2 linked regions of the Homo sapiens genome follow. The protein of the gene in region 1 interacts with the protein of each later gene in a pairwise test. Each region holds a gene or a part of one and is shown on either strand. Other genes may lie near its edges.

What was found.
Region 2: the proteins of ZNF618 (region 1) and CSNK1E interact in binary tests that used the Homo sapiens proteins (3 or more experiments, as listed by UniProt).

What each region holds. Positions count from the first base shown.
Region 1 is NC_000009.12:113,879,148-113,882,959, forward strand, and holds part of ZNF618 (zinc finger protein 618), read left to right. Parts: intron 1-3,812. UniProt on the Homo sapiens protein: Regulates UHRF2 function as a specific 5-hydroxymethylcytosine (5hmC) reader by regulating its chromatin localization.
Region 2 is NC_000022.11:38,300,428-38,304,239, reverse strand, and holds part of CSNK1E (casein kinase I), read left to right. Parts: intron 1-991; coding exon 992-1,102; intron 1,103-1,230; coding exon 1,231-1,379; intron 1,380-3,287; coding exon 3,288-3,516; intron 3,517-3,812. Other genes in the region: TPTEP2-CSNK1E (casein kinase I), read left to right, coding at 992-1,102, 1,231-1,379, 3,288-3,516.

The sequences.
Region 1 (3,812 bases):
GAAGGAGAGATGGGCTGGGGAGGGGTGGAGGGGGGTAGGGGCATCTGAGAAAAAGTCAGGGTTGTAGATAACAGGTTATTTCTGGTGCAAGGAATAAAAATATTGCAGCACGTCCCTTTGTGTGGCCTGGATCTCCTGACACACAATTCAGCTTCCTTCATTCCATTCTGCTGAAATTTTGTTCTGTTGTCTATGGCTAGAAGTTGAAAATCATTTCTGGTTTTGTAGAACTGTTTTTTTTTTTTTTCTGTTTTTTTTTTTTTTTTAAATTGGTTATTCTGATCATGTTTGTTGTAAAGGAAGTAGAGGTGCATGATGGTTCTATTGGGGGCGGGGCCAGTTTTCTTTTGTTTCTATTGGTGTCTCTCTCTGGATTGAGATCTGACCTTGGCCTTGGCTCTCTCACCTCCTATTTTAGGTGGACGTGTGACCAGAAATGGACATGTGAGCTAATTTTTATTAGCTCCTGTCTGTTCACCACATTCTCGTAGATTATTGGGCAAAATATCTGGCAAATTGGACTTGGGGGTGGTAATTTGATGATGGGCTGAATTATTTTGGCGAAAGATCGTTTATATTCAGTTTCACAGTGGAGACTCTTATTACTTAATGTTTTGCTTTTCTGCCTAAGGAGGTTTTTTTTTTTTTTTAATTTTTTCTAACAAGGTTTGAAATTTCAAGGGCCTGCTTTATAGTTTGACTTTGGAGCAAGCTAGGAAAAGAGGTTTGCTTATACTTCCAGCTCTGCACAGAGGTGAACTTGAACAAGGGTTCTTGCTTTTGCAGAACGAAAGCAACAAAGATGGCTGGTCAGTATAAGGCTGACCTCTCCCTCGTCCTAGAAAATAAACAGCCAATGGCTTGTTTCACTTGAGAAACTGGGTTTTAAAACTCCTCCAGTGTCAGATACAATATTTTTCTCACTTTTGACTCAGCTCTTGGCATGCTGCTTCCTCTGACCTCAGAATCCTTACGTCTTCTCCTTGGTGGGTGATAAGAACTTCCTTGCCATATATGACTGATGTATATAAGCCGACTTCTCATGGTCATGAGGAAATTTTGAATTTTTTCCATGTTCTTGTGATGTTTTGGGTCAGTTGTACCTTCTTTCTGGTGATGTAAAATGAAGTGGCTCTTTTCAGGAGCCCTAGCCCCCACAAGGTCTTGCTGTGTGACCTTGGACAAATCACTTTTTCCTTCAGAGCCTCAATTTTTGCATTTATAAAATGAACACTTGGGATCAGATCAAGGATAATAATAAATAGGTTTCATTTCTGATTGTAACTCCAAGGAATTGGTTATGGCTGCCTGGATCACTGTGTTGAGAAGGATTCTGAGGCCATATCCCGACTCCCATATTCTAGAGAGAGGGGTGCAGTGGCCAAACAGCATTGTAAATCAGAGTGGAGAGTGTACCTCTTAGTTACCATTCCCAGGCGAGACCTTGAATCATGGGCCATTAGTGGCCTGTGAAGTCAATTTAGTGAATCACAATCAGAATTTTTTAAAAACAAGAATAGACTAGAATATAGGGGAACAAAAAATAGCAGAGGCATACCACAGGGTACAGGTGAGTATCCTCTCATGAAACTTGTATTTATATTTGTGGATGTATGTGTGTGATTTGAAATAGATTTCCTCCTGTGGGTCACGGCCAAAAGAGTTTGAAAGGTACTGGACTAGCTGAACCGCCATGATGTGCTGCAGGTATACTGCACTTTATTGCTTATACTTTATTTTTGCATTTATTATCTCAATTAACTTTTAGGTGAACCCTGTGGGTTAGGTGTCCTGTGCCACATATTTTGAGCCCTGGTTGAGCCCACTTCAAGGGCCACATATGAAGAAAGCTCAGCCACATGGGCAGCCCAGGCACATACCCCAGCTTGTTGGCCTTGGATGAGTCTGGAAGGACATATGGAAAGGCAGATACAAGTTTGAAGGCAGCGTCTTTGCAAGGTCTTCTTGCTGGAGAGGAGATCTAAAGTGTGTGGAGTCCTTGTCTTTTGTTCCCCACTTTTAGTTTAAATTGCCAGAGAAATTTTTCTGGAGTTAGAGAGTCTGTGTTTGTGCTATATTTAATTTAATCAGACAAAAACACAGTCTGTATTTTTGTGTGTGTGCACTTCCTTAAAAATCCCAGAATTTCTGTCTTAGTCTCCTCATCTTTTAAATGTGTCAGGTCAGCGCTAATAGAAATATAATTCAAGCCCCCGTTGCGAGCCACATATATAATTTTTAATTTTCTCACAGTGTATTAAGGAAAGTAAAAGAAACGGGTGCCATTGATTTTAACATATTTAACTCAGTATATCCATAATACTATCCTTTCATCAAGCCATCCATATGAAAATTATTAATGTGACAAGTTACAGTCTTTTGCGGGGGTGCTATTGAGTCTTTGAAATCTAATGTATTTTACTCCTACAGTACATCTCAATTCTGACCAGCCACATTTCACCTGTTCAGCAGCCACATGTGGCTGGTGGCTACTATATTGGACAGCTCAGGTTTGGACCAGTTGTCGTCATCACTGGCTGGCCCCAGAAGGGTAGCAACACCTTTCAGACCTCTTGGTTTTGTTGGTGAGACTTCCTATCAGAATCTCACATGCTCTGAGGCATTTCAGCCTGTAGTGATGATGAGTTCCATCCATATAGCTCTCCTGGCTAGAGTAGCCCACATTTCCCTTTTATTTGTCCCAACGCAGACTTCTGCCAGGGTTAGGCCACTGTGCTGTAGTTAAAAATGACAAATGATGGCTAGTAACTCCGGGATGATGTGTTGCAGCCTGTGAGCTGTTGAAGTCAAGGAGTGTGAGTCCGGGAGGCTGTTGCTTTTTGAAGTGCATTTTAAATAAAGTGTTGCCAGAGAGAAGGATGAAGTTGCAAAAAGGCAGCAGGTGGCCAGGACCAGGGCTGGGGTCTGAGGAGAGGAAGGAGATCAGAGGTAAAAGATGGCCTGGCAATGAAATCTATTTCTGAGCCAAAAACATGGCATCAGCAGGAAATCCCCCCAGGCCAGGCCTTAGGTCAGATGCATAGAGATTTTCCGAATCCACCCCAATTGGGAAAATGGAAAGCTGGGTTTGAGGTCTGCCAGACCAGAGTTTGAAATCCAGCCTCATGGTGTGGTTAGCTTTGTGTGACTTCGGGAAAGTCACTCTGGTTCTGGAACCACAGCTTCTACATCTGGGAAAAGAGGGTTAATGATCCCAGCCTTGCAGGGTTGTTTTAGGATTAAATGAAGGGGTCACATGTGGAGACTCTCAGCCGGTCTGAGGGCCTGAGTAGGTGGTCGACGCATGTGAGTTGACTCAACCCAGTGGCCAGGGATTCTCCATTTGGGGAGATTAAGTCCCACTGACAACACTTGGGGTAGTCCTGGAAACCTGGTGGCTTATCGTTAGCAGGCAAAGTTAGGCGACAAGTGAGAATGTACACTCTTGGCTGTTGCTTTAAAACAGCCTGCCATCCATGAGACTTTCTTGTTAAAGCATTCTGGATGCTTTCATTCCGGGGCTGCTCTAGCTCCTTGGAATGTTTCTGGATTTGTTTCTGAGCCTGTGGCAAGGCTTTAAAAGGGATACATCTCAATCGCGGGTGGACCTGTATGTCTTTGAGCTTCTGCTCATGCTGGGGCCCTTGCCTCTGGTGCCCCTTCCCTCATTCATATCTGCTTCGTGAGAAACCAGACCCTCCTCGAGATCAGCTGCACTTCTTCTTCTGTAGAGCTCCCCCAACAAATTTCCCCAGGTAGGCTTCCTCTCCCTCTGCCCCCATGGTACCTCCCAAACAATGTGGACCCACAGG
Region 2 (3,812 bases), on another chromosome or scaffold:
CTCCTCCTGAGGCTGTGTCCCTGGGGGTTGTTCTGGCCTGTTTGTGTCCTGTTGCGACACTGTCCTACTCCTCCTGCTGGGCTCGCTGCTGGCCCCAGGAAGGAGACACCCTGTCGCCCAGCCTAGCCCCAGCCCTTCATCTCATCCACCCATACAGCCAGGGAAACTGAGGCAAGGTACACTTTGGGCTTGGTCTTTCTTGTGACTTCTTGAGTTGGGCAGTGGGCCCAGGCAGAGAGCGGGGCCTTGGTGTGTGTGAGGGTATTTTCTTAGAGCCCCTTGAGAAGCCAGGAGTGGACTGGGGGAGACGGGGAGGTGCAGGCAGGACCTCTGACCTATGCTGGAGGCCAGCAGAGCCGGGGTTGATCTCAAGGCCGCCATTTACAGGTCAGGTGACCTTGAGCTGGGTCTCTAGCTGGGTCTCTGTTTTCTCATCTCTACAAGGGGGTTGAGAATCGAATGAGACACTGGATTAGAATGTGCAGGGCTGCCTCTGAAGGCATCAGCATTGACTGAGGGGTTGCTGCGGCTGTCCCATCCTCATCCTGTAGGCCAGGGTGGTCCTGGCTTGTTCTGGTGTGTTCGGCAGCCCAGCCCCATTGGGCCTCTTCTGCACGTGCCACCATCTCAACCCGACAGACCTCACTGCCTGAATTTGCTCTAGGACTCAGCCCCCTCCCTTAGGTGGTCTGTGAGCCTTTTGCATACCTGACCCTTGCCCCACTCACATCGGGCCTTCTTGTCGCCCCAACCTGTGGCCCTGGGTAGCCCTTGTGTGTCACCTCTGTCCCTCACAGCGCTGACCTTCTTTCCCCTCAGGAACCCTTTGCCGGGGCTCCTTTGCCCCCTTCCCAGCCTCCCCCAAGAGCTCCTCAAGGGCAGATGGCCCCGGGCCCGGCACACGCCAGATCTCAGAAATGCTTAGTGGGGCGCCTGGGACTGCCTGGCCTTTGAGGGTGACCCTGGTCCCTTGCCTCCCTGCCCCGGGCAGGTGCCAACATCGCCTCTGGTGAGGAAGTCGCCATCAAGCTGGAGTGTGTGAAGACAAAGCACCCCCAGCTGCACATCGAGAGCAAGTTCTACAAGATGATGCAGGGTGGCGGTGAGCGCAGGGTGGGCGGCGGCGGGCGCCGGGTGGGTGGCGGTGGGCAGCCATGAGCACAGGGTGGGCCGGGCGTGGCTGGCTGCCTGCCTCTGACCCCTGACAGAGGCCCTCTGCTTGACCCCCAGTGGGGATCCCGTCCATCAAGTGGTGCGGAGCTGAGGGCGACTACAACGTGATGGTCATGGAGCTGCTGGGGCCTAGCCTCGAGGACCTGTTCAACTTCTGTTCCCGCAAATTCAGCCTCAAGACGGTGCTGCTCTTGGCCGACCAGATGGTGAGTCCCCGTCCCCTCCATCCCCAGCCAGATGCCTGTGGGCCCAGGATACCAGCCCTGCCTCCTGCCCCCAGAGGATGCCAGAGGATGGGCCTGGGCCAGGGGACCTTGTCCACTGGCTATAGAATTGTAGGTGTTTATTTATTTTTTGAGGCGGAGTCTCACTCTGTCGCCCAGGCTGGAGCGCAGTGGTGCGATCTCAGCTCGTTGCAACATCCGCCTCCCAGGTTCACGCGATTCTCCTGCCTCAGCCTCATGAGTAGCTGGGATTACAGGCACCTGCCACCACGCTGGGCTAATTTTTGTATTTTTAGTAGAGACAGAGTTTTACCAAGTGATCCGCCCATCTTAGCCTCTCAAAGTGCTGGGATTACAGGCGTGAGCCACCGTGCCCAGCCAAGTTGTTTATTTAAAATGTGATTTCAGGCCCAACTCCAGACCTGCCGAGTCAGGGCCTGGGACTCTGCCTGGGGTAGTTTTATTTATTTATTTCAAAAATATCATTTAATTGTAAGAAATAGAGATGGGGGTCTCACTGTGTTGACCAGGCTGGTCTCAAACTCCTGGCCTTGAGCAGTCTTCCCATCTTGGCCTCCCAAGATGGGAATTAACACGGGATCACAGGCATGATCCACCACGTCTGGCCTGCCCTGGGTAATGTAAAGCCTGCGGTCGGTCACACAGACCTGGTCCTGTTCCAGACCAGTGACCGTAGGTGAACGCCGAACCTCTCTGAGCCTCAGTGGCCTCATGTGAGAGTCTCTCCTTTGTTGGTTGTTGAGGGGATTAGGTGAGATACCATTCAGCGCCTTGCCAAAACAGGCCCCTCTAACAGGCTGTTGTTAAGTACTAAGCCCTTCATCAGCATAGGGAGGAAAGCTTCTTAAAAATACAAAACTGTAGAATTTTGAACTTGGAATGGAATGTGGAGATCTCGTACAGGGGTTTTAATCTTGGTCTGCAAAAGCCCTGCGATGTAGGCTGAAGGTGTGTGAGCAGAGGGTCGCCAGAGCCCCTCATGGTGTGAAACTCAAGAAAGGTGCAGGAGATGTTGAGCTGTGCTGAACCTGGGGCCAGAGCCAGAGGCCACGGCATGTGGATGGATATTAGTTTGAGTTTTAAAAACTCGACTGAAAAGGTGGCTCAAGTCTGTAATCCCAGCACTTTGGGAGGCCGAGGCAGGCGGATCTCCTGAGATCGGGAGTTTGAGACCAGTCTGACCATCATGGTGAAACGCCATCTCTGCTAAAAATACAAAAAATTAGCCAGGTGTGGTGGCGCGTGCCTATAGTCCCAGCTATTCGGGAGGCTGAGGCAGGAAAATCACTTGAACCCTGAAGGCAGAAGTTGCAGTGAGCCGAGATTTTGCCACTGCACTCCAGCCTGGGCAACAGACCGAGACTCCATCTCAAAAAAAAAAATATCAAAGGAAAGAGGGCCATGTGCCTGTCTGAGTTTGGCATCCTTCGGAAGCCCTGTCTTTTGTGTTCTGCCTCTGTCACCTCTTCCTGGTCTAGGCTTCCCCCATGTTCCCTGCCTGCCCCTCGCCCACATCTGTTGCCTCTCTGGCTCCCTAAGTCCTGTGAGTGTGGGGCCGGGCAGGCAAGCCTTCCATGGGGAACCAGTTGCCTTTCTAGCAGACTCTTCATTTCTGGATCTTCCCATTAGCTTTCCTGCAATACTCTCTTTCTCTGTCTCACAGCCAACTTGGTGAACTCCCCCTTTAGAGTTCATCCTGATGTCACATTTTCCAGGAGGCCTTCTCTGGCCTGCCCCTTAGTTATCCTTCATGGTCGAAGGCAGGCCTTTCTCCCTCTGCCTTTCCACCTCTGTGGCCCCAGCCCCTGCCTGGCCCAGAGTGCTAGGCAAGGGCCCCTCTGTTGAACAAATGGCCCCCCTCCTCCCCAGATCAGCCGCATCGAGTATATCCACTCCAAGAACTTCATCCACCGGGACGTCAAGCCCGACAACTTCCTCATGGGGCTGGGGAAGAAGGGCAACCTGGTCTACATCATCGACTTCGGCCTGGCCAAGAAGTACCGGGACGCCCGCACCCACCAGCACATTCCCTACCGGGAAAACAAGAACCTGACCGGCACGGCCCGCTACGCTTCCATCAACACGCACCTGGGCATTGGTGAGGGAGCCAGGCCTGGAGCAGTGTGCACCCGGGGCCACTGGCTGGGGCCCAGCTCTCTGGAGCCCTCTCACCCCCTACCCTGATGGAGGCCCCCAGGCTCTTTTCTAGTGAGAAAGTCCCCACCCCGTCTGCCCCCAAGCTCGTGCTTATTCCGTGTCCTTGCACAGTCGGGTCTTCCCCTTCGTAAGCCAAGCTGTGTGTGCCGGGCGCCTTCCCTGGCCCTGCTTCCTCCTCCGCCCTGTTGGTGCAGGCTGGAAGATACAGGCTCAGAGGTTTAACATGGGTTGCTTAAG